Regions from separate parts of the Homo sapiens genome. Here all the other regions are linked to region 1. Evidence: fine-mapped expression QTL. A gene starts in region 1. Each other region holds a variant in brackets. All regions are shown on one strand. Distances are from middle to middle.

Region 1 (4,149 bases):
ACGTCCTGCTCTGCGCCTGTCATCGGCCGCGGTGTGTCTCCTCAGGTGCCGAGCTGGTCACTTCCATGTACAGCATGGATAACCGTCTTCTCAGGGAAGGCCTCCAGCCCGCATTCAGCCACCTGCCCAGCCGCCGGGCGGAGGGAGCAGGCTCAGGCACCGAGACTGCTGAGCCACTGGCCACCCGGGAAGCAGGCTGCGTTCTGAGTCGGTCACCGAATATGTCCCCCCTTGGACGGGAGTAGCGCAACGATGTGCAGGCCAGCTCAGGAAGTAACGCTGGGAGCTTCTAGAAGGTGGAGCGGGATCCAGGACCGTGGGAGCTTTTCCGGAGAAGCCTACCTCTCCTGTGTTGCAGCTGATGGGAGCAGCAGGGCCTGGAGAAGAACTGTCCCCAGGCTGACTCCCCTCTTGGAGTGAGGAGGCCTCCCGTGTTTGCCTGCCAGCCTCCATCTGTCATCTTGGTTCCAGCCATTCAACTTTCCTCCAGGCGAGCAGAGCTGCTCTACCCCCACCTGCTCCGTGTTGGCCCCAGACCCAACTCAGGCCAGTGGACGTCTGTCCTAGGGCTGCGTGTGAGATCGGTGGGTGCAGGGAACACAGCAGGAAGCTGGCCTAGAAGAAGGGGGTCAGGGTCAGTGGAGATGCTCCTACCTTCAGGTAAATGCCCTCATTTGTTAGGGCCAGTTTGAGCGAGCTTTCTGTCATTTACCACCAAAAGAATCCTAGAAAATAAATACACAGGGATCTACCCCCAAACACTGGAGACAATAAAGAAAAAGGAAGCAGCCAGGGCCAGTAGCTGGAAGGAAATTCAGCCGGAGGAGAGGAGGCGCGGGGCTGTGGTGGGAGGGAGGCAATGCTTCCTGAATCTTACTTCCCTGGTCTTTCCATCGGCCTGAGCCCGTGCCAGTCTGGGGATCTGCCGGCCAGCCAGCACAACTGCGTCTCCCCCAGGGGCCTGACTCGTTGAAGGAATGAATGAATGAATGATTTTGCAGGGATGGGAGGCTGGGAGACTGAGAGGTTTCATTAAACGGAAACGCTCAGATCTGGTGTTTCACAACGTAAAACAAATAATTCCTCTATGTTAGCCTAATTTATGTAAATATTTCTCCACGGGAATTGTACCGGGAGACCTGTGTGCCAACTCGGCCAGCTTCCCCGGCAGAATCTCCCCTTGGGAGGACCCTTAAGCAGGACCCTTCCTAAAAATTGGAGGCAGCTCTGACTCCTCCATTCCTCCTACAAGGTTCCCCCACCCCCTAGGGCTTTCCACCGCATGAGAGTCCTCCGGGCCCCTCGTTTCCTACTGCCCTCGACCCTTCCTTCCCGAGACCTCTCTCTCTCAGTAAACTGCCTCCAACGAGAATCTTCTGACGGCAGGAGGGTCCTCCCCGTCCCTAAGGGTCGCCCTGTCCCCAGGCCTTCCAGCAGGACACTCCCCTGTCCCCTCTCCAGATCCTCCTTCCCAGGGCCCTCCTCCAAGATCCTCTTCCCCAACCCTCCTCTCCCAGGGTCCTCCCCTCTCCAGAATCCCGGCCCCAAGCCCCCAAGCGCTGTCTGCCTGTCTGGGGTCCTCCCCAGAGTTCACCTTCTGCAGGATCCTCCCTCCAAGTCCTCTCCTCACGATGCTCCCCCGAAATCCTCCTTCTCCAAGTCGTCCCCCACTCCAGGGCCGAGCTCTCTCCAGGGTCCTCCTGCAGCACCCCCTCCCCCAGGGTTCTCCTCTCTGCCCCGAGGGGCCGGCCGGGGGGTCGCCGCCCGCCCGGCGGGCTTACCTGCGAAGCGGCGGGGTCGGGGCCTCTCCCACCTGTAAGCCCGGCCCGCGGCGTCCTGCGTCCGAGCCGCTCCCCGCCCCGCAGCGCCAGGCCGCGACCCGGCGGGCCGCCCGCCCCGAAGTGCCACTTCGCGAAGTGCCGCCTCCACGCGCGCTGCCGCCGGCGCCCCCCGCTCTCCTCCCCGCACCTTCTGCTCCTTCTTCCTGCGCCACCCCGCCCCCGCCTCCCCGCCCCCAGCCCGGCTGTTGCCCGGGCCCCCTCAGGCTGCTCCCAGGGCCCCAGCCCGCGCCGCGCCTCCCCTCTCCTCCCCCAGGATCGACGCCGCCGCAGACCAATCGCTGCCTGGAGTCGGCCACTAGGCCCCACCTCCGATCCCGCCCCCCTCCCCCTTCTCCGGAACCCACCAATGGAAAGGGCGGTGCGGGGGCGGGGCCTGGCGGTTGCCTAGCAGCGGCAGCGCCGGGCGGGGGCGGGTGGTCGGGGGCGGTGATGCGGGCGCAACGGGGGCGGGACGCAGGGGCGGGGACTGCCGCGGGGCGGGGCCTGAGGCGGCTATAAAGGTGGCCGCCGCCGGACGCCGGGCTCTGTGGTTCGGGTCCGCTTTCGTCTCCGTCCTGCTGCCGTTACCGCCGCTGCTGCCGCCGCTTGCGTCCCCCGCTCCGGTCTGTGGTGCAGCCGGGACCCAGGACCATGTCTCTGTCTCGCTCAGAGGAGATGCACCGGCTCACGGAAAATGTCTATAAGGTGAGCGCCCCCCGGCGCCGAGCTGAGCCCGCTCCGTGTGCGCCTGGGTCGCGCGCCGCCCGCGCGCCCGAGCCCGACCAGGGCGGCCCCGGGGCCGCGCGCCGGGCCAGGAGGCTGGGACTTTGGGGGTCTTCCCGGCGCGGCCACCCGGGACCCGGGCTGCTGGGGTGGTGAGCCCGGCGCCGGCCGCTCACAGGTGGCCACCCCCGCCCGGGCCCCCCCATCCCATGCGCGCCGCGGCCCGGTCAGTCCCCAGCCCCAGGCCCGGGGAGCACTCCCCGCTCCGACGGCCCTGCTCGGCCCCCGCGCGCTCGCCTTGGCGTCGGCGGGAACGGAGCCGCGCGCCGGGCCCCGGAAGCCCTCGGACCGGTCGGGGTCGTAGCACACCCGGGCAGGGCCGGGGCGGCGGGGGCGGCGGGCCCAGGGGTTGCGGCGGCCAGGACGGCATGGGGGCTGTCTGAAGGCCGCGGTCGGCGCGGTGGCACCGTGGGGCTCCTCCAGGCGCGGTTGCGCGAGCCTCGGGCACTTCATTCTCAACAGGCTTTCCCTTCCCACAACTCCTGCCCGGCGCCCATGCTGGGGCCTAAGGTGGGAGGTCGGAGCGCGGGCAGGCTGGATGGGTGGACGGATAATCTATCATCTTATGTAACCGCGGAGAGAGAAGACTAATTGTGTAGGAGGCTGACGTGCCTGCCTTTGCTTCAGATGTGTTAAGAGTGGCATCCACGTTCTCGTCTGCGAAATGACAGGTTCACATCCAAGGGCCGCAGAGCACCGCTGGAAGCCTCCCCTGCCGCCCCCTCCCCAGTCGTTTTTGTGGCTGGGATACCGACAAACAGGCCCTTGGTTTTCTCTTTCTTCAGCATCCGTTCTCGGTCCAGACCCCCACGCCTGAGCCCGGCAGCTGCCGGGGAGCATTTTCTCAGAGGAGAAACCCCTGCTCTGGGTGTCCCTGGGTCCTGGGCGATCTCTTACAGATGTGCTTTGTTTCAAAACTGTCTGCAGGTTCAGTGACAGGCTGGGCGATGAGTGGAGTGGGTATTTACCCGGCAGTCGCTGGTTCATGTTTCCTAACCGGCTTGCACCCTGCCCGGCAGAGTAACTGTTTCTGATTGTGGTAGGCGGCCAAGGCGTGCCTGGCCAGGGGCCTGGGAAGCCCTCTTAGCTCTCAGGCTTGGGAGAGCCAGATGGAGGCTTCAGGGGTGGCCCCTCTGGTTCCAGCTGGAGTGCAGGGGGCCGATTGCACTTGAATACAGCTTTCAATAAAGCTTGTGAAGTTGGGGCCGCGTCAGTCTGGAAGGTTTCTGAAGGCGGGTGTGCGGTCGACTAGATGAGTCCTAAAGCCACGTCGGAGCCACTGGGAAACAGGATTCAGGGTGACCTGAGGAGTCGGCTTGGGAAAGGCACAGGCCCTGGGGTTGTTAGGTTTGGTTTCACAGAGTCTGTGGCATACGGTTCTGGCCTTGTTGCTCTGTGGAAGCACATGTTGTCAAGGGAGGGAGGTTTATTAAATTATTAGTCATTAGCTCCATTACGACTTGTTTGTGATTGCAGAGGGTGGAAGAGAAGTACCAGCGGAACCTTTTTCCTATTTTTTCTCCTTCTGCGCTGAAACCAGAAAGCA
Region 2 (4,728 bases), 37 kb before region 1:
CTGGCAGTGGGAGAGGACAGGGAGGAGCAGGTGTCAGGAGTCACCCTCACGCCCAGCAGCACCCGCCCAGCAAGGGTGTCATCCTGAACCCTGCCCCAGGGCCGGGAGGAGGGCACCCCGGATCCTCAGCACCTGCGTCTGCTCTGGTTTCCTTTTCAGGTTCAGAGTATTGAGTTCACCCAGATCGAAATGAAAGTGATGGAGGGGCTGCAGTTTGGAAATGAGTGTCTGAACAAGATGCACCAGGTGAGTCTCTGCAGGGCCAGGGGCATGGAGGTGTGGGGAGCCCATTGGGCTGGAGCTGGGGATAGGGCGGGGGGCTTGTCCCACGGTGTTCGTGTCAGACACAGGGCAAGAGGCTGGCAGGGGAGATGTGTTGGGTGCTGCCAGGCAGGCAGGGATGCAGTGACCGGGTGCAGCACAGGCTGGGAACTGTGGGAACTGGGTCCCCAGGCGCCGAAGTGACATAGAAGGGAAGTCTGAGGGTGGGGAGGGGGCTGGCAAACTAATCACAGAAGGCTTCCTGGAGGTGGCGGGTGTGGTGGCTCACACCTGTAATCACTTTTGGAGGCCAAGGCAGGCAGATCACCTGAGGTCAGGAGTTCGAGACCAGCCTGGCCAACATGGTGAAACCCTGTCTCTACTAATAATACAAAAATGAGCCAGGCGTGGTGGCAGGCACCTGTAAACCCAGCTACTCAAGAGGCTGAGGCAGGAGAATCTCTTGAACCGGGAGGCAGAGGTTGCAGTGAGATGAGATTGCGCCACTGCACTCCAGCCTGGATGATAAGAGCAAAACTCCGTCTCAGGAAAAAAAAAAAAGAAGGCTTCCTGGAGGAGGTGAATACCGGCCTCATCTCAGGCCGGGCATGGATGTGAAGCCCAGCGTGGCCATACCACGTTCCCCCACCAACCCCATCACACTCCTGACATGGGGGCCAGTAGGTGGGGCTAGTTGGAGAGCCAGGGACTCACCTGGCGGGAGGTCTGGCTGTGCTACTTTTCCAAGTGTTTGGTGAGTACTGGTGGTGTGTGCCGGTCAAGCACAAGTGGCCCTTTGACCTTTTGCCACTCAAAAGAAATCAAGTCACCTGCCCAGAATGTTCTACCTGTTGCTTGTTTTTACTGGCGGCTGTGAGAGCTGACTCAGGGTGAGAGGGGGCATCGGGCGCCAGGGCAGTGCAGTCGTGGCCTCTGAAAAGACTCATCAAACGGCCCCTGTGGCCTCAGGACAGGCCCATGCCTGGGACACACATGTCCTGGCCTCATTTAAACAGGGACAGGAGCTGGGTGTGGTGGCATGCACCTGTAGTCCCAGCTACTTGGACGGATCGCTTGAGCCCAGCCTGGGCAACACAGCCAGACCTTGTCTTTAAAAATAAATAAAAATAAACAGAGGGGTGAGGCCATGGCCCTGAGAGCCCAGGAGGCCTCTGTCGGGGGTCTACCATTGGCCTCGCGACAGGGGTCAACACCCATCACCCTCGTCCACAGGTGATGTCCATTGAAGAGGTGGAGAGGATCCTGGACGAGACGCAGGAGGCCGTGGAGTACCAGCGGGTAGGTGGCACCCTGACCGGCCTGCCCCCAACTGTGAGAACCCACAAGGCCACCCTCGAGGGCCAAACTGTCCCACATCCTAGAGCGGCCGCCTTCTCTCAAGGGGACGAGACCCAGCCACAGGCCATCTCCTTCCTCCCTGAGGGGCCACCTCCTCGCTGCTCTCACCACCGCCTGTCCTTTTGCAGCAAATAGACGAGCTCCTGGCAGGAAGCTTCACTCAGGAGGATGAAGACGCCATCCTGGAGGAGCTGAGCGCAATCACTCAGGTAACGGCCCCCCCGGGACTGAGCACAGTCACTCAGGCAGCGGGACCCCCAGAGCTCAGACCCCCAGGAGGCCCTGCCCATGGTGATCTCGTATGTGGTGTCCTTTAAGTAAATAGTCTGCGGTTTGTGACTGGTTTTCCTACCTGAGGTGACTCTGTTTTCAGGGTTGCTCACCCAACGGTCTGGTGCAGGCAGGCTGGCCCCGTGCCCTGGACAGAGCGGGGGTGCTGGGCCTTCCTGGCGCCTCGGCCCCTTTCTGTCCCCGGCTGTCACGGATGTGGTGCTGGCTTTCCCCAGCCGTGGCTGCTGACTCACGTCCCACATAGGCCCTCGCTGCGGGGGCCGCGTCCTGGCCCCAGGCTCACATCCAGGCTCTGAGTCTGTATTCACTCCC[C/T]GACACAGGGGTTGTCCTCTCTGTGGGCCCCTGCCTCAGTCCGCCAAATTCTCATGGTGCCCCCAGAGCCGGCCTCTGCCCCAGCCCTGCTGCCAGCTGCCCCGGCGCCCTGGTGCTGTGCGGCCCATGGTGCCTGCACCCACTTGCTTGTCCAGTTACTTTCTCCTGAGGGTCCGAGTCCTCCGGGGCCTCCAGGGAAGGCCAGCTGAGAGGCAGAAGCACCCGTGCTGGCTTAGGCAGCCAAGCTCGCTGGGACAGCGTTGTACCGCAGCCCACCCCGCAGTGGTGGACACCAGCGTGACCTGGGTGTCTGTGTCACCCACCCCTCGGTCCCTGAGAGCCAGGGTCTCTGGGGCACACCCAGGACGTCGCCTCCTTACAGCCCCTCAGCGCCCCAGGGTCTGTTGGGAGGAGCCTCCATGGTAGCGGCTGCGTCACCACCTAGGGGATTCTGGTGGCACCAGAAGCCGGGGCGGTTGCAGACTTGGGTCTTCTGAGCAGCACGTTCCTGTCCGCTTTAACTCCGGCTGAGAGCGGCTGACGGACAGGATCCGTGTCCTCTCGGGGAGGCCCAGGCAGCCCGGGGCAGACCTGTCACCTGCTCATAGCCTTACCCTTTGCTTCTTGCAGGAACAAATAGAGCTGCCAGAGGTTCCCTCCGAGCCCCTTCCTGAGAAGATCCCAGGTATTTCCATGTTTGATTCTTTTGAATGGTTGGAATTCGCAGGAGAAAAGTGGATTCTAGAAGGGAACAAGACAGAATGCTCCCAGGCCTTCCTGGGCCGTGGGCAAGCCCTGCTGCCTGGCTGTTTGGCTTGGGGGCGTGCGTGCCTGGCCTTGGGGTTGGGCTTGGGTTTCCCAGGGGTTCGGTAACTGGGCAACCTCATAAGAGAGCCATACCCCATTCAAAGAGACACATTCAGAAATCAGAACTGGGGAAAGGCTTCTTTAGCAGCACCAGCTCATTCCCAGGGTGTAGCCCAGGATTAGCCCTCAGCCAGGGATGGCTCTCCCCGTGGCACCATTCAGCACAGGCTCTCCAACCTGCCCACTGGGAAGCTGACTTTAGAACCGTCCATCCACGTTTGTTCTGTTCCTTTACCCATCTTTGGGGCTCTTCTCCTCTCTGAGTCCCGCTGGGAGGGGCTGTGCTTTCCTGGCCCACTGTCCCGTGTCCCTGGCCCTGTCTGTCAGCCCCATTGGCTTCCTGTTTGTCACTTGCCTCCCCCAGAGCTGGGCGTGCCCTTCCCTAGTGCGAAGTCCCCGGAACTGGCCCTTGCCACCCCTGTGGCCTCGTCCCTCTCTGGAGGTCTCTGCCTGTGGGTCTTTGGCGTGTCATAAACATCTCTGTTTCCTCCACAGAAAACGTCCCTGTCAAGGCCAGGCCCAGGCAGGCGGAGCTGGTGGCAGCTTCGTAACGTGGCCTCGTCTTGTGGGACTCACGGGGATGCCCCAGGGACTGTGGCCCACAGAGAGTTTGGGTCACGGCCAGCCCCTGACCGGGTTCCCTGGAGCCCAGTGCGCACGGTGCTGAGCAGAGCTGCAGCCACGCAGGCGCATTGCAGGAGGACTCCAGAGCGTCTCCTGGAGACCTTGAGCCTGAACGCACTCAGGCGCCACTGGCCTGCTCTCAGTCCGGATTAACTCTCGACCGAGCCCAGCTTCTGCCGGTTGTGGGCTCCCCCGGTGGCCGAGGCCCAGGCCCAACGCCTCTGGTGCTGTTCCCCTGCAGTCCCAGCCCCGCGTGGCTCGCGCTCGTCTGTGAGGAAGACACCTCCAGACCTTGGGGTCCCCGCGCTTCCTCTTGCTCCTCGCTGCTCCCATTAGCTGGTGCAGGCTTCCGTTAAGGGGTCCCTCCCTTGGCCTGGCTTCCCGGCGCACCTCAGCTTCCCTGCTGGTGGGGGGATCCCCAGGAGACCAGCATGTGCTGAACCTCTCTGTGCCTCTGCCTCCGCACCCTAGACACCCACCTCCAGTTTGAAGGTGGCGGGCCAGGGGCTTTCTTGCTGAATTGACGACTCCGAGAGCCCTGACTCCCGCCTTGCCACTCACGGCTCTGTCCACTAGGGCTCAGCCCTGCTGAGAAAGGACCTCCGATGCTTGGGAGACGCTGCTCCGGCAGGTGCAGCCCCGGAAGTTTGTCCATGGGGGTCCCCGCGGCTGGGGCTCATGGAACTGCGAGACCCGGGACCCTCCTGCCCTGCGGGTCCCCGAGCCACCAGCAGCCAGGACTGGAGGCTGTGGGGCATGGCGTGACTTCTCGTGCACAGGGCTGGTTTGGTTATGAGACGATCTCGCTGGGACCGCCCCTGCCCGTGGAAAGCCACAAGGACAAAGGGAGCGGCCACCTCGACCCCCAGACAGGCCGGCCCGTATTAAAGTTGGCCCTGCACGCCCACTGCCTCGTGGACTTGGGCGCAGTGGGCACCTAGGCGTGGCTCCCTCTGTGGGAGCGTGGGTGGGTTGTGTGCGGCCCCTCCCCCACGGTGACCCTGACCAAAGCCC
Region 3 (4,000 bases), 79 kb after region 1:
TCCTCCCTTCCGAGACGCTGTTTCTGGGAGGCCTCCAGACCCCCCCACTCCCCCAGGTCCCTCTGAGCTGAGGGGGCTGAACTGCCCTTACCTGGTGAGGCTTGGAAGGGGTGAAGGCTCAAAGATGAGGCTGGCACAGCCTCTGTCAGGGACCACGTCCCTTGGAGGGCAGAGACCCTGGGTAGCAGTGCCGGTGGGGCAGTGGTGCTCAGCCCCAGCACCACTCCACAGTGCCAGGGGCCAGTTTCCCGGCCACGCAGTCTGCCTGGTCTGACAACTCAGCTGGGATTGGGGGTGTCGAAAGCCACTTGCAGTTGGCCAAGAGACTCCCCAATCCCATTGCCACCCTGTCATGCCCCAGCTTTGGGCCCTGGGAAGGGGGCCTTGGAATGAGAGTGGAGGGGCGAGCGTCCCTGGCCGCTGTCCATACTCGTCAGCGGAGGCCCAAGCGCCCACGCTGGACCCGATTCCAGAAGGGCCCACCTTCTGAAGACACGAAGAAACAGCTGACGCGAGAAGACAGAAAACAGGTGCTGTCCGCCCGGCTCTGGGTCTGGAGTCACCCAACTGGTCGAAATGCATTTGTGACGGCTCCGTTTCTTCTCGGAATCCTTCTGCTTCACATTCAAGTCATTGGTGAAGCTGCCGCTTGGCCGAGCGCCGTGGCCCACACCTGTAATCCCAGCACTTAGGGAGGCTGAGGCGAGAGGATCTCTTGAGCCCAGGGGTTCGAGATCAGCCTGGGCAACCTAGGGAGACCCCCATCTTGACAAAAAAAAAAGTTAAAAATTAGCCAGGCATGGTGGCACGCGTCTGTAGTCCCAGCTTCTCAGGAGGCTGAGGTGGGAGGATTGCTTGAGCCCAGAGGTGGAGGTTGCAGTGAGCTACAATTGCACCACTGCATTCCAGCCCGGAAGACAGAGCAAGACCCTGTCTCAAAATAATAATACAATTTAAAAATTAGAAAAGCCACCGGTCTCCCCTGCGGCCTTGCTTAGGGGCCTCTGAGGGGAGGCTCTCTGTGAGGAGACAGAGCCCAGGCCTCTGCATTCTGAGGCCAGCGCCCTGCCCGCCCAACAGCTCCCCCACACATGACGCAGGCCCTCCTCAGGGTCCTCCGCTCTTGGACACGTCTGGTGACTTTCCTTTGCTGGCTGGAGAGGTGCTGGTGGTGTCATTGGGTAGTTCGTGGCAATCGCTGCCCAGGGCCATGTCCTGCAGGAGGTGGGGCCTGGCACGTGTCCTCCGGCAGGGACCAATGTCTGTGGCTAACGTGTGGTGACCTTGCAGTGGCCTTGGGCTGCAGACTTTGTCATATTCTATTGGCTCAGTTAGGCCCCCACTCAGCACAGCGAGCTCCCCGCCGGCCTCCTGGGCGCGTCTTTCCCAGACAGCTGGGGGGTGGGGGCCAGGGTGGGGAAATAGGGACGCCCAGCCCCTCCTTGTGGGCCTGCTGTCCCAGCCAGCCTTGGGCTCTGGCCTGCGCTCTCCCCATCCCCGCCGACCCCCCTGCCCCCGTCAGGCTGAGATTGGACACAGCATTTGCAGCCCCAGCCCCAGGGTCCTCAGAGCCACCCAGTGTGGATGGTTCAGCACGCTCCACCTGGTCCCACTGTTCT[G/C]GGAGACAAGAAGAGAAAAATGCAGGTTAGAGAACAGGCCTGCACCAGTGGAGGGCTTCCTACCCCTGCAGCTCCCCGTGGGGTCCAGGCAAGCGATGTGCCTTTGCCACTGACTTTCTGATGAGAATCGGCTGTGATTCGGGGCAGGAGTGAGAACCACGCGGCTGCACTGCCCTCGGCTGTGGTCTGGGCCAGATCTAGGACCCTTCTCTGGGAACCCACTTTTTTTTTTTTTTTTTTTTTTTTGAGACAGGGTCTTACTCTGTCACCCAGGCTGGAGTGCAGTGGTGGGAACACAGCTCACTACTGCCTCGCCCTCCTGGGTTCAAGCGATCCTCCCACTTCAGCCCCCCATGGAGCTGGGACCACAGGCATGCACCACTCTCCCGCACCTGCCTAATTTTTTTTTTTTTTTTTTTGTAGAGACGGGTACGCTTTGCTGCCCAGGCTGGTCTTGAACTCCAGGGCTCAAGTGGTTCCTCCTGCTTTGGCCTCTCAGAGTGCTGGGATTCTAGGCAGGAGCCACTATGCCCAGCCAGCCCCATTTCTAATCTCCCCAGAGCTCCCTCCGGACCCTGGGCCTGCGGAGGAACTCGGGCCACAGAGCACTTCCTTAGGAGTGGGTCTAGCCTGGCAGGCAGACAGGGCATGGGCAGACATCAGTGATGGAGGTGGAATCCTCACCAGCGGGCCCCTAGGCAGCCCCTACCCAGGCCCCAGGAAGGGCAAAGCTGCACCGATCAAAGCTGAAAAAAGCCGGGGATCCAGCAGACCCTGAGGCTCCAGCACGTTGAGAGTAGATCAAAAGATCCTTTCAGCAGGGTGCCAATGCTTAGACGCCATCTGGGAGTCTGGGAGCCTTCCGCAGACCTGTCAGTCTCTTCCACGTACTTTATTCTCTTAAAAACTCAGTCTGTAGTGTTTCAAGTTCTTAGAAAACACAAAGTCCTCAGGAAAGCTTAGGGAGCTGCCTCTGCCCTGTGCCTCTTCCTGGGCAGCTGGACGGAACCCTGCCTGCCCACCCCAGGGTTTGCTTCCGGCTGCCTGTGCCTCTTCCCGGGTAGCTGGACGGAGTCTGCCTGCCCGTCCCCAGGGTTGTTCCCGGCTGCCCGGGCTCTTGTGGACCCAGCTGTGCCAGAGGTGATTCTGCTCCAGGTAATGGCTCCAGAGTCCAAGCACAGCTTTGCCAGAGCACAGTCCCGTCCCTGCTGCGTCTTCATGTCCACGTGCCATCTGTGCTGTCACCCTTGGAGCTGCCTGACATCCCCCATCCTGTCCTGTGCTGTCCCCTCCGGGGGTGGGGACTCCAAAGAGAAAGGCTCAGGCATCCCTCTCATCCGTGCTCATCTTGTTCCATTTCAACTTCTTGTCTTGAGTCGTATTTGTGCATCAGCTGTGGCCCCGGGGATATGGGGGAGGGCGCGGCACCCCTCGGGGGACAGGTGGCTGAGCCCACAGCAGGTGAACCACTGTCTGGCCCAGGGGATGGCCAGCTGCTCTGCAGGGCCCATGGGTGTCCATCTGCAGCCCTGCGGGAGCCGTGAGCCTAACCTGCCTTCTCTGGATGCCCCCATGCCAGGGCTGGGCTGGACGCTCTGCCACGCTGTGTCCCTGGGTGTGGGCCTGGCCTGGTGGGGGAGCCACCAAACTGGTGTGTGCCCGGTTCAGGCCTGTCTTGAATCCCCAGCCTCAGTGGTGATGTCCGCCCCTCACTGGGAGGTTGTGGCTGGCCTGCCCCGCCCCACCCCGCCCTGCCCTGCCCAGCCCACACTGCTGGGAGGGTGATGGATCGGGGTGGGGGCACCCTGCCTTGTCTAGGGCACATAGTGGACTTGGGGGTCAGGCAGCCTTGCAGACAGCGCCTGGTCCTCCCTGCCCCGCAAAGCAGCGTATATTGTCTGTGAGCTCTGTGCCCTGAGATCGGACCGTAGGCATCCAGCACTGGGGAATCCCTGGGGCATCGGGCAGCCCAGGTGGCACAATTCACCCATGGCTTCCGCCCTAAAAATTAAAACCACGTTTTTCTCTTTCAGGAATCCCTTTGCCCACGTCCAGCTGAAGCCGACAGTGACCAACGACAGGTCTGCCCCCCTCCTCAGCTGATGGCCACATCTGCAGTGCTGCCCATCTGGTGGCTTCCCCCGCCCTTCCCATGTAGCCTGTTCTGTCATCATCTGTGCGTTCCTGTGTAGAGAACATCCAGGCCCCGGCTGCCTGGTCTTGCCCCACTTGAGTCTGGCCTGGACTGGATCCCAGCTGTTCTAGGCAGGGCCGGGCAGAGTGGGGCGCAGGCCCCTGAAGGGCGAGACCCAGTGGCTGGGCTGCCCAGGGCTGAGGGGCCGCCTCTTGAGGGTACACGCCTCTGGTCACATGGCCATGGA
Region 4 (4,818 bases), 27 kb before region 1:
CAGGCTCAGCTGTGCTATTGTATGGACCAGGGGGTTGTTTTGTTTTTGTTGTTTGTTGATTGTGTGTGTGTGTGTGTGTGTGTGTGTGTGTGTGTGTGTGAGCCTGGCGTGGTTGCGGGCGCCTATAATCCCAGCTGCTCAGGAGGCTGAGGCAGGAGGATCACTCGAGCTCAGGAGTTTGAGGCTGCAGAGTTGATCATGCCACTGGACTCCATCCTGGGCGACAGAGCAAGACTCTGTCTTTTAAAAAAAAAAACGGGGCTGGGCGCGGTGGCTCACGCCCGTAATCCCAACACTTTGGGAGGCCGAGGCAGGCGAATCACGAGGTCAGGATTTCGAGGCCAGCCTGGCCAACATGGTGAAACCCCGTCTCTACTAAAAATACAAAAATTAGCTGGGCATGGTGGCGGGCGCCTGTAATCCCAGCTACTAGGGAGGCTGAGCCAAGAGAATGGCTTGAATCCGGGAGGCGGAGGCAGAGGTTGCAGTGAGCCGAGATCGTGCCACTGCACTCCAGACTGCAGCCCTGGTGACAGTGCGAGACTCTGTCTCCAAAAAAAAAAAAAAAACAAACAAAAAACAATAAATAACAAGGTCGGCTGAGGTGGCTCACGTCTGTAATCCTAGCACTTTGGGAGGCCGAGGCGGGTGGATTACCTGAGATCAGGAGTTTGAGACCAGCCTGACCAGCATGGAGAAACCCCGTTTCTACTAAAAATACAAAATTAGCCAGGCGTGGTGGCGCATGCCTGTAGTCCCAGCTACTCGGGAGGCTGAGGCAGGAGAATCGCTTGAACCTGGGAGGCAGAGGTTGCAGTGAGCCGAGATCATGCCATTGCACTTGCAGCCTGGGTGACAGAGCAAGACTCTGTCTCAAAAAAAAAAAAAAAAAAAGACTCAAAAAAAAACAAAAATCAGCCAGGCGTGGTGGTGTACACCTGTAGTCCCAGCTACTCTGGAGGCTGAGGCAGGAGAATCGCTTGAACCCATGAGGCAGAGGTTGCAGTGAGCCGAGATTGCGCCACTGCACTCCAGCCTGGCAACAGAGCAAGACTCCGTCTCATATAAAGAAATAAAACAAAAATAAACAAATTTTAAAAACAAACACATTCCTATACAGGTTTCTGTGTGGACAGCGTCTGCTCTTGGGTCTGCACCTGGGAGTGGAATTGCTGGGTTGTGTGGTAACTGGATGTTCACCCATAGGATGAACGACCACACTCTTTTGCACAGTGGCCGATGGTTCTGGTCTCTCTACAGCCTCACCAACTCTTATATTCTTTTTGATTACAGCCACTCTAGCAGGCATGAGGTGGTACGTCATTGTGGCTTTGACCTGCATTTCTCTGGTGTCTAATGGTGTTGAGCATTTTTTCGTGGGTGTTACTGACCATTTGTATATCTTAGAGAAATGTCTATTCAGATAATTTGCCTATTTTTAATTGGGTTCGTTGTCTTTTTATTGAGTTGTAATACTTTATTCGGGATACTAGACCCTTATTAGACACATGATTTGCAAATATTTTCACCCATTCTTTGGGATGTCTTGTTAACCTTTTTGATGGTGTCCCTTGAAGCACAAAAGTTTTTAATTTTGATGAAATCTAATTTATTTTTGTTGTTGTTCCTTGTGCTTTTGGTGTCATAGCTAAGGAACCCCTGCTTAATCCAAGATCATGAAGATTTGTGTCTATGATTTCTTAACAGTTTTATAGTTTATTTATATTTATATAAATATGTTTTTGAGACAGGGTCTCACTCTGTTGGCGAGGCTGGTCTTGAACTCCTGACCTCAGGTGATCTGCCTGGCTCAGCCTCCCAAAGTGCTGGGATTGCAGCCGTGAGCCACCGCGCCCGGCTTGACTTCTTCCTTTTATATGTGGGTATTTTTCTGTCCCAGCGTCATTTGTTAAAAAGACAGTCCTTTCTCCGTGTAATTGTTTTGGCACCGTGTGGAAACCCGCTGCCTGTAGCCAGGAGCTTCTTTCCAGCCCTCAGTTCTGTCCCATTGCTCTGTGTGTCTATTCTTACGTCCTCATGGCAGCCTTGTAGTAAGCTTTGAAATTGGGAAGTGTGAGTTCTCCAACTTTGTTCTTCTTTTTCAAGATTGTTTTGGCTATTCTGGGACCCTCAAATTTCCATGTGAATTTTTAGGATAAGCTTTTCAGTTTCTGCGGAGGAGCCAAGTGAGATGTTGATAGGAGTTGCGTAGAATCTGTGGATGTGTTTGGAGAGTGCCGCCGTCTCCGCTACATTAAGTCCAGATCCGTGGATTGAGGGTGCCTTTCCATTTATTTTGGTCTTCTTTACTTTCTTTCAACCAAGTTTTGTAGTTTTCAGAGTATAAATTTTATACTTGTTTTGTTCAGCCTATTACTGTTTTATTTTTGGTGCTATTGTAAATGAAATCTTCTTAATTTCAATTTCAGATTATTCACTTAAATATACAGAAATACAGCTGATTTTGTATATTGAGCTTGTCTCCTGCAATGTTGCTGAACTTGTTTATTAGGGTTTTTTTAAGTGAAATCCTTAGGACTTTTTATATACAAGATGAGGTCACTTGTAAAGAGAGATAGTTTACCTCTTAATTTCCAACCTGGATGCCTTTAATTTCATTTCCTTCTCTAAGTGCCTGGTTAAAGCTTCAGTACAATGTTGATTAGAAGTGGGTATCTTAGGCTGGGCGCGGTGGCTAACACCTGTAATCCCAGCACTTTGGGAGGCCGAGGCGGGAGGATCACGAGGTCAGGAGATCGAGACCATCCTGGCTAACAAGGTGAAACCCCGTCTCTACTAAAAATACAAAAATTAGCCGGGCGTGGTGGCGGGCACCTGTAGTCCCAGCTACTCGGGAGGCTGAGGCAGAAGAATGGCGTGAACCCGGGAGGCATGGTGGTGCATGCCTATAGTCCTA[G/C]CTACTTGGGAGGTTGAGGTGGGAGGATCATTTCAGCCCAGAAAACGGAGGCTGCAGTAAGCCATGATCGTGCCACTGCACTCCAGCCTGGGAGACAGAGCAAGACCCTGTCTCAAAAAAAGAAAAACTGTTCTGAAGCACAGTGTAGTCTAGTACTGTGGCATTCCCACCTGTATTCCTGCTTGTTCCATTTACTTGAGAAACATTTTTTTCATAAATAATATGAAAACATATCCATCCCAGTTTCTGTACATTAATTCCAGACTAAGAGCATTTAACCTGAGTTTAGTGGTAGATTTAAGGACACTCATGAGAAAAACCTCCATTTATACAAGAGGAACAGGACCCTTCCTTATCTCGAGGATGATGTCCCGCAGGAGACGCCTGCTCTCCTCCAGACAGGCTCTAGGGCTGTTCATCTGACCTGCCTTGGAATGTCTCACGTGGCTGCGACGCCAGCCTTTCAATCGTCTCCCATGGATGAAGCCATCGTGGGTGTGTCTTTGGTATGTGTCTCTGTTGCTTGGTCTGCCCTCTTTTTTTTGAGACGGAGCCTCACTCTGTCACCCAGGCTGGAGTGCAATGGCCCAATCTCAGCTCACTGTAACCTCCGCCTCCTGGGTTCAAGCGATTCTCCTGCCTCAGCCTCCCAAGTAGCTGGGATTACAGGCATGCGCCACCACACGCAGCTAACTTTTGTGTTTTTAGCAGAGGCGGGGGTCTTGCTCTGTTGCCCAGGCTGGTCTCAAACTCCTAGGCTCAAGCAATCTGCCCACCTTGGCCTCCCAAAGTGCTGGGATTACAGGTGTGAGCGACTGCGCCTGGTCCAGGAAGGGAACTTTAACACATAATGGATAAAGCTGGACCCTCAAGCAAAATAGGAATATTTAAAATCCATTGTTTTGGATTAACTGCAGCATCTCCAGATTATCTTTCCTCCATTTTAAAGTTACCTACAAAGGGTCCATACCTTGATGGTAGCATCAGCCCTCCACAGCCCATCTCTTTCTTTCTTTATTTTATTTTTATTTTTTTGAGACGGAGTCTCGCTCTGTTGCCCAGGCTGGAGTGCAGTGGCTTGATCTCGGCTCACTGCAACCTCTGCCTCCTGGATTCAAGCGATTCTCCTGCCTCAGCCTCCCGGATAGCTGGGATTACAGGCGTGTGCCACCACACCTGGCTAATTTTTGTATTTTTAGTAGAGACGGGATTTCACCATGTTGGCCAGGCTGCTCTCAAACTCCTGACCTCGGATGATCCGCCCGTCTCGGCCTCGCAAAGTGCTGGGAGTACAGGCATGAGCCACCACTCCCGGCCAGCCAGCCCATCTCTTTCACTGTTACAACTAACAACTCAAATCCAGGAAAAACAAAGCACCCCCCGCCCCCGCCACCACCGCCCTGCCACTGAGGACTCTGCAAAGTAAACCAGTAAACCAAAGCTGTGGAGGTGGCCCCTGTGGGGAAGCCGTTTCCTGGTTTTATCTTCCCTTTTCTCTCGTAGCTTTGCCCCAGGATGGGCCTCAGTTACGGAACTGCACAGAAACACGGAAAGCTAAAACTCCCATAGAAACCTTGTCCTTTTGGCAAGAGAAATTGTGAACAGGGGCCACTGAGGTCCAGAAAGCGTGTGGTGGGGGAATCCCAGAAGGGAGCGAGTGGGAGAAAGAGGCCTTGGGACTCTGAGGAGGAACCAGCAGCAGCCCCGGCTCCCCCACCCGAGCTGCACCTGTGTGGGGTGCACTCAGAGAAGCAACAGGAATTGGCTTTGAAAGTGGAACCTCGACTGGAGCAGAGGCAGCAGAACTTTGTGGTTGGAACTAACCAGGTTGATGGGCATTTAAAAAAAAAAAAAATCAACATTCTCCAGCGGATTGTTGCGGAGTCCACCCAGCATAACCG
Region 5 (4,000 bases), 38 kb after region 1:
GCCTTGACACCAAGGTGGCTCTTTGGACTTGCTTGGTTTCAGAACTGTGTGTGGGGAAGCAGCGTCAGCTACCGTCATCACCATGGCAACACAGACATTGATTTTTTTTTTTTCCCCCATTGGTTACCCGCTGGCCACATTCCATTTTTGCCTTTTTTGTAGGTGGGAGAAGAACTCTGCTTCTCCCAAGGAGAAGCTGGTGGCTGGAGGGCAGCAGAGAGAAGGGGCGGGATTGGGAGTCACCCCCGAGGTGGCGTCCTTGGGCTTTGGGTCAGCACTGGATCTGGTCCCCTGGCCCCTGTGGGGGCTCTGATAGCAAGATGTCCTGTCAGCCCCCTGGCCATCTGTCCTTCCCCGTGATGAGGGCGCTCTGTTCGAGCCCTGCCCAGGTGGGTGGTGATGAGCTCTCGAGGTGCCTTTGGGCTCTGGAAGCCACCAGGATAATTGAGAGTTGTGGATAGCTACTTCAGAAGGCTCTGGAAGGTGATGCATGCTCACAGCCAGCTTGGAGCAGCTGACCTCTCGCACAGAGCCCCTCTTCCACCAGCAGAGAAAGGAGAAGAGTTCCAGTGCCTCCGGAAGCAACAGAAATATCCAGGAAACGAGTGTTTCTGTGCCCTCAGTGTCCACTGGCCAAAAAGAGCACCCTGACCACTCGGTAGCAGCGCCCGTCCGTCCCTGAGCCTCTGTTTGAGGGACTCACGTCCAGCTCCCGGCAGACTCAGCGCGGGGGTCGGATGCCTTCTCCGCACCATCCCGCACCGCCACGAGCTGCTGTGGCTCACATTCTGCCATCCGAGCTCTGTCCAGGAGGCAGCCGAGAATTGGAGCAGTTCCCACGCCAAGTAGGGCCTTGTGGGTGGCCGGTCCCCTCCTCCAGCGTGGCACGGAGGCGCCGGAGCATGCAGGTCTATGCCTCTGCAGAGTCTGGGGCATCTTGTTCCATTTCCTTGCTGCCTCTCCTCTCGTCCGTGATCATCCCCCCCTCCCCCTCTGCTTCCGGCCTCCCCGGCCTTCCCAGTCTCTTGGGCCATCATCGTGGTTGTGTTGGTCCTGTTGCTCCTCCTTCGAGCGCCCACGTAGGGCTGGGGTTCCCTGCGGGCTGTGGGTGCCGTGCCCTCCCCGGCTGGCTCCAGCCCTCAGAAGCTTGGGGAGGGTGGGCTGGGCCATCTGCATTCCACCTGCCCAAGGGCTGCCACTCCCTTTTCCCAGATGGCTGGAGTGCCCCAGGGCAGCGTTGGGAGACCTGCGCAGGCCCCACCTCAGTCCACAACAATGTTCCTTGATTCCCTCCGGCTTCCTGCTCCTTCACCTCCTCCTGCGCAGCCCGGCCTGACCCATGTAATCAGGGAACAGGAGGGGCTCTCCTCAGTGTCCCTATGTCCATGCCTTGTGGCCACCTGAGCACTTCTCAGGGTCCAGTGGAAAACTCTCCTGCCCTGTTTGACGCCCACACTCGTCAGTTTCACCTTGGTGCCAAGAGCAGACGATCTGCTCCAGGCCCCACTTGGGCCACAGCCTCACAGCCGTCTCCACGTCCCCACCCGAACCTGGCATTTCCTGAATTCCTGGCCCCTGTCCGAGAAGGAGGCTAACCCTCCTGGGAGAGCTCTGGCAGGTGCTGACCCAAGTCCGTGGGGTCTTCAACCTTTGCAGACACCTGCGCCCAGAGGCCACGCCTCCCACTCTGAGCACAGGCGGGCGGACGCTGTCTGGCAGGCTCTGCCTTTCTTTCATTTTTCCTGACCTCTTCGCCCAGCGTCCTCTGCTTGGAGGTGGGTGTATGAGAAGGGGCCATTGGTGTCAGAGTGGGGCTGTCTGCTGAGCAGGTGAACACACCCCCAGTCCTTGCTCTGGGGCCGGGCTGTCCCGTGGGCCTCACGGACCTCATTGTCTGTGGTCATGAGCCTGCATCTTACTGATTTAATCCCGGGTGCCGGGTACAAACATGCACGCTTCCCTGATGAGAAAATGGCATCTGGCCTGGAGCCCCTTCCCACAGCCCTGGGTATTGGGTGCCTGTCACCTCCAGGATGACCCCCAGCCAGCAGACAGGTAGCAGGTGGAGGGTACCTGCTCTGGGGCCCTGGTGGCCCCAGTGGGTTGAAGCTCTCTTCGTAGGTGGCGTGGGGCCTTCTGTCCCCATGACCCTCCAGCGGCCCCTCCCCATGCCAGGGCTCAGCACCCCTGCTCCTCAGAGATCGAAGCCTCCTTCTCGGACCTTCCCCACCACTGTGGTCCCAGCTTCCTGTGCAGTCTCTTGGTTACCCAGGAGTTCAGAACTTTTACCACCTGGGGTGCCTTTCAGATACTCGGACCTCTTGGTTTGTAGGAGTACCAGGCCGGGGTGGGGAGGTGGAGGCTGTGCTGCTCCCCTCACCCTGGGCTCAGCCAGGGCCGCCAGCCTTCTTCCTGGGAGCAGTCACCAAGCTGGTCTCGGGCCGTGCTTTGGTAGAAATGATCTTTTAACTGACTAAGC[A/G]GAGTGTTAACTGAAATCATCATGAAATGCTGTTTATGCTCCATTTGGGATTCGGAGTCAAGCATTTGGGGACCCTCGGGCAGGGTCTGAGCTGCTGTTTGCCCTCGCAGATGAGGACGACGATCTGCACAGATCTGCCTCCAACCCTGGGCTGAGAGCATCCGAGGCCCAGGCTCTTCCCTCCCCCAGTCTTTTTCACTGTCTCTGAGATTCACGCTCTCTCTCAGGTTCTTGTCACTCGCAGACTATAAGAACACGTTGTATTTTCTGGAGTAAAAAAAGGCACAAATCTTTAAAATGTCACTGTTGTGAAAGCCGAAGTGTGAGGGGCTCTTCTAGGTTAAAGGACTAAAGATGCCCAGCGCCCCAGAGGAAGGGTGAGAGTCCTCTGGGAGCTGGCAGGCGCCAGTTCCTTGTCGCTCACGGTTAAGCCCGTGTATCACTTATTTGTCTCAAGTGCTTATGGAGCAGTCTTCCAATAGGTGGAATGCTGATTTGTTTTCCTAAAATGAGAGAGACTAAAGCCACGTGCCAACGCAACACAGCGGGACCCTTGATGAGAACCTGGATCAGGGAGGAGCTTGTCAATGGCATCGTCGGGCCATTCAGGAGCATGGTGTGTGCTGTTGATGAGAGGAGGATGCGTCTGTGGTAACCTTCCTGTGTGTCACAATGGAGGCGTGATGAGGCAGAGAAGGTCCTTGCTCTTAGGACACAGCTGCAGTATTGGGGGCAGGGGCAGCATCACATTGTCTGATGTCTGCAGTTGAGTCTCAAGGGGCTGAAAAAAGTGCCTGTGTGTCTGTGTGCATGCATGGATACGTGTGAGTGCCGGTGTGTGTGCATGCACGGATACGTGTGAGTGTGCGTGCACTGGTACATGTGTCACTGTGTGTGCGTGCACGGATACGTGAGTGCTGGTGTGCGTGCATGGATGCGTGTGAGTACGTGTGTGTATGCACAAATACATGTGAGTGCCAGTGTGTGTGCATGCACGGATACATGTGAATGCCTGTGTCTGTGCGTGCATGGATGCGTACGAGTTGCCTGTGTGTGTGCACGTGCACAGATGTGTGAGTGCCTGTTCGTGTGCGTGCATGGATGTGTGAGTGCCTGTGTGTGCGTGCACGGATGCGTGAGTGCCTGTGTGCGTGCACGGATGCGTTGAGTGCCTCTGTGTCTGCGTGCACGGATGCGTATGAGTGCCTGTGTGTGTGCATGCACGGATGCGTGTCTGTGCGTCTGTGTGCGTGCACAGATGCGTGTGAGTGCCTGTGTGTGTGCACGGATGCATAAGTGCCTGTGTGTCTGTGTGCATGTACGGATGCGTGTGAGTGCATGTGGGTGTACCTATACATCACAGAAAGAGTGGTGAAGCGATTGTGGCAAAGCACACCGCCAGGGAACCTCGGCGAAGTGAATGGGTGTTTGCTCTGCTATCCCTGCAACTTCTCTCCAGGTTGGAAAGGTTGGGCTGGGAAGAGAATAATGTAGTTCTGTTTTCTAAACCACAGGGAAGAA

Evidence for each region. PIP is the estimated chance that this variant, and not a neighbour inherited with it, causes the effect.
Region 2: its variant is the best candidate, but not a certain one, in a credible set for the expression of BAIAP2 in blood mononuclear cells (TOPMed, PIP 0.58).
Region 3: its variant is the best candidate, but not a certain one, in a credible set for the expression of BAIAP2 in whole blood (TOPMed, PIP 0.76).
Region 4: its variant is the best candidate, but not a certain one, in a credible set for the expression of BAIAP2 in whole blood (TOPMed, PIP 0.74).
Region 5: its variant is the best candidate, but not a certain one, in a credible set for the expression of BAIAP2 in nasal epithelium (TOPMed, PIP 0.75).

The regions. Positions count from the first base shown.
Region 1 is chr17:81,032,784-81,036,932 of GRCh38, forward strand. It overlaps BAIAP2 (BAR/IMD domain containing adaptor protein 2), which reads left to right and starts at 2,368. Exons shown (of 14, transcript NM_001144888.2): 1 at 2,368-2,525. The coding sequence starts at 2,472. It overlaps BAIAP2-DT (BAIAP2 divergent transcript), which reads right to left and starts at 1,936. Exons shown (of 2, transcript NR_026857.1): 1 at 1,782-1,936; 2 at 1-615. RefSeq lists a silencer at 2,004-2,313 and an enhancer at 2,185-3,180.
Region 2 is chr17:80,995,513-81,000,240 of GRCh38, forward strand. CHMP6 (charged multivesicular body protein 6) reads left to right here. Exons shown (of 8, transcript NM_024591.5): 4 at 160-246; 5 at 1,495-1,560; 6 at 1,749-1,829; 7 at 2,854-2,908; 8 at 3,586-4,621. The coding sequence ends at 3,641. Among named protein-coding and RNA genes, the nearest start is that of CHMP6, 6.0 kb to the left of the region's middle. The variant C/T (reference allele first, on the strand shown) is at 2,224.
Region 3 is chr17:81,112,118-81,116,117 of GRCh38, forward strand. BAIAP2 (BAR/IMD domain containing adaptor protein 2) reads left to right here. Exons shown (of 14, transcript NM_001144888.2): 14 at 3,653-4,000. The coding sequence ends at 3,722. Among named protein-coding and RNA genes, the nearest start is that of MIR657, 11 kb to the right of the region's middle. RefSeq lists enhancers at 1-179, 180-679, 694-1,435. The variant G/C (reference allele first, on the strand shown) is at 1,620.
Region 4 is chr17:81,004,970-81,009,787 of GRCh38, forward strand. It overlaps LOC124904077 (translation initiation factor IF-2-like), which reads left to right. Exons shown (of 1, transcript XM_047437254.1): 1 at 1-4,818. Among named protein-coding and RNA genes, the nearest start is that of CHMP6, 16 kb to the left of the region's middle. The variant G/C (reference allele first, on the strand shown) is at 2,918.
Region 5 is chr17:81,070,999-81,074,998 of GRCh38, forward strand. The region is part of intron 3 of BAIAP2 (BAR/IMD domain containing adaptor protein 2); the gene reads left to right. Among named protein-coding and RNA genes, the nearest start is that of BAIAP2, 38 kb to the left of the region's middle. The variant A/G (reference allele first, on the strand shown) is at 2,480.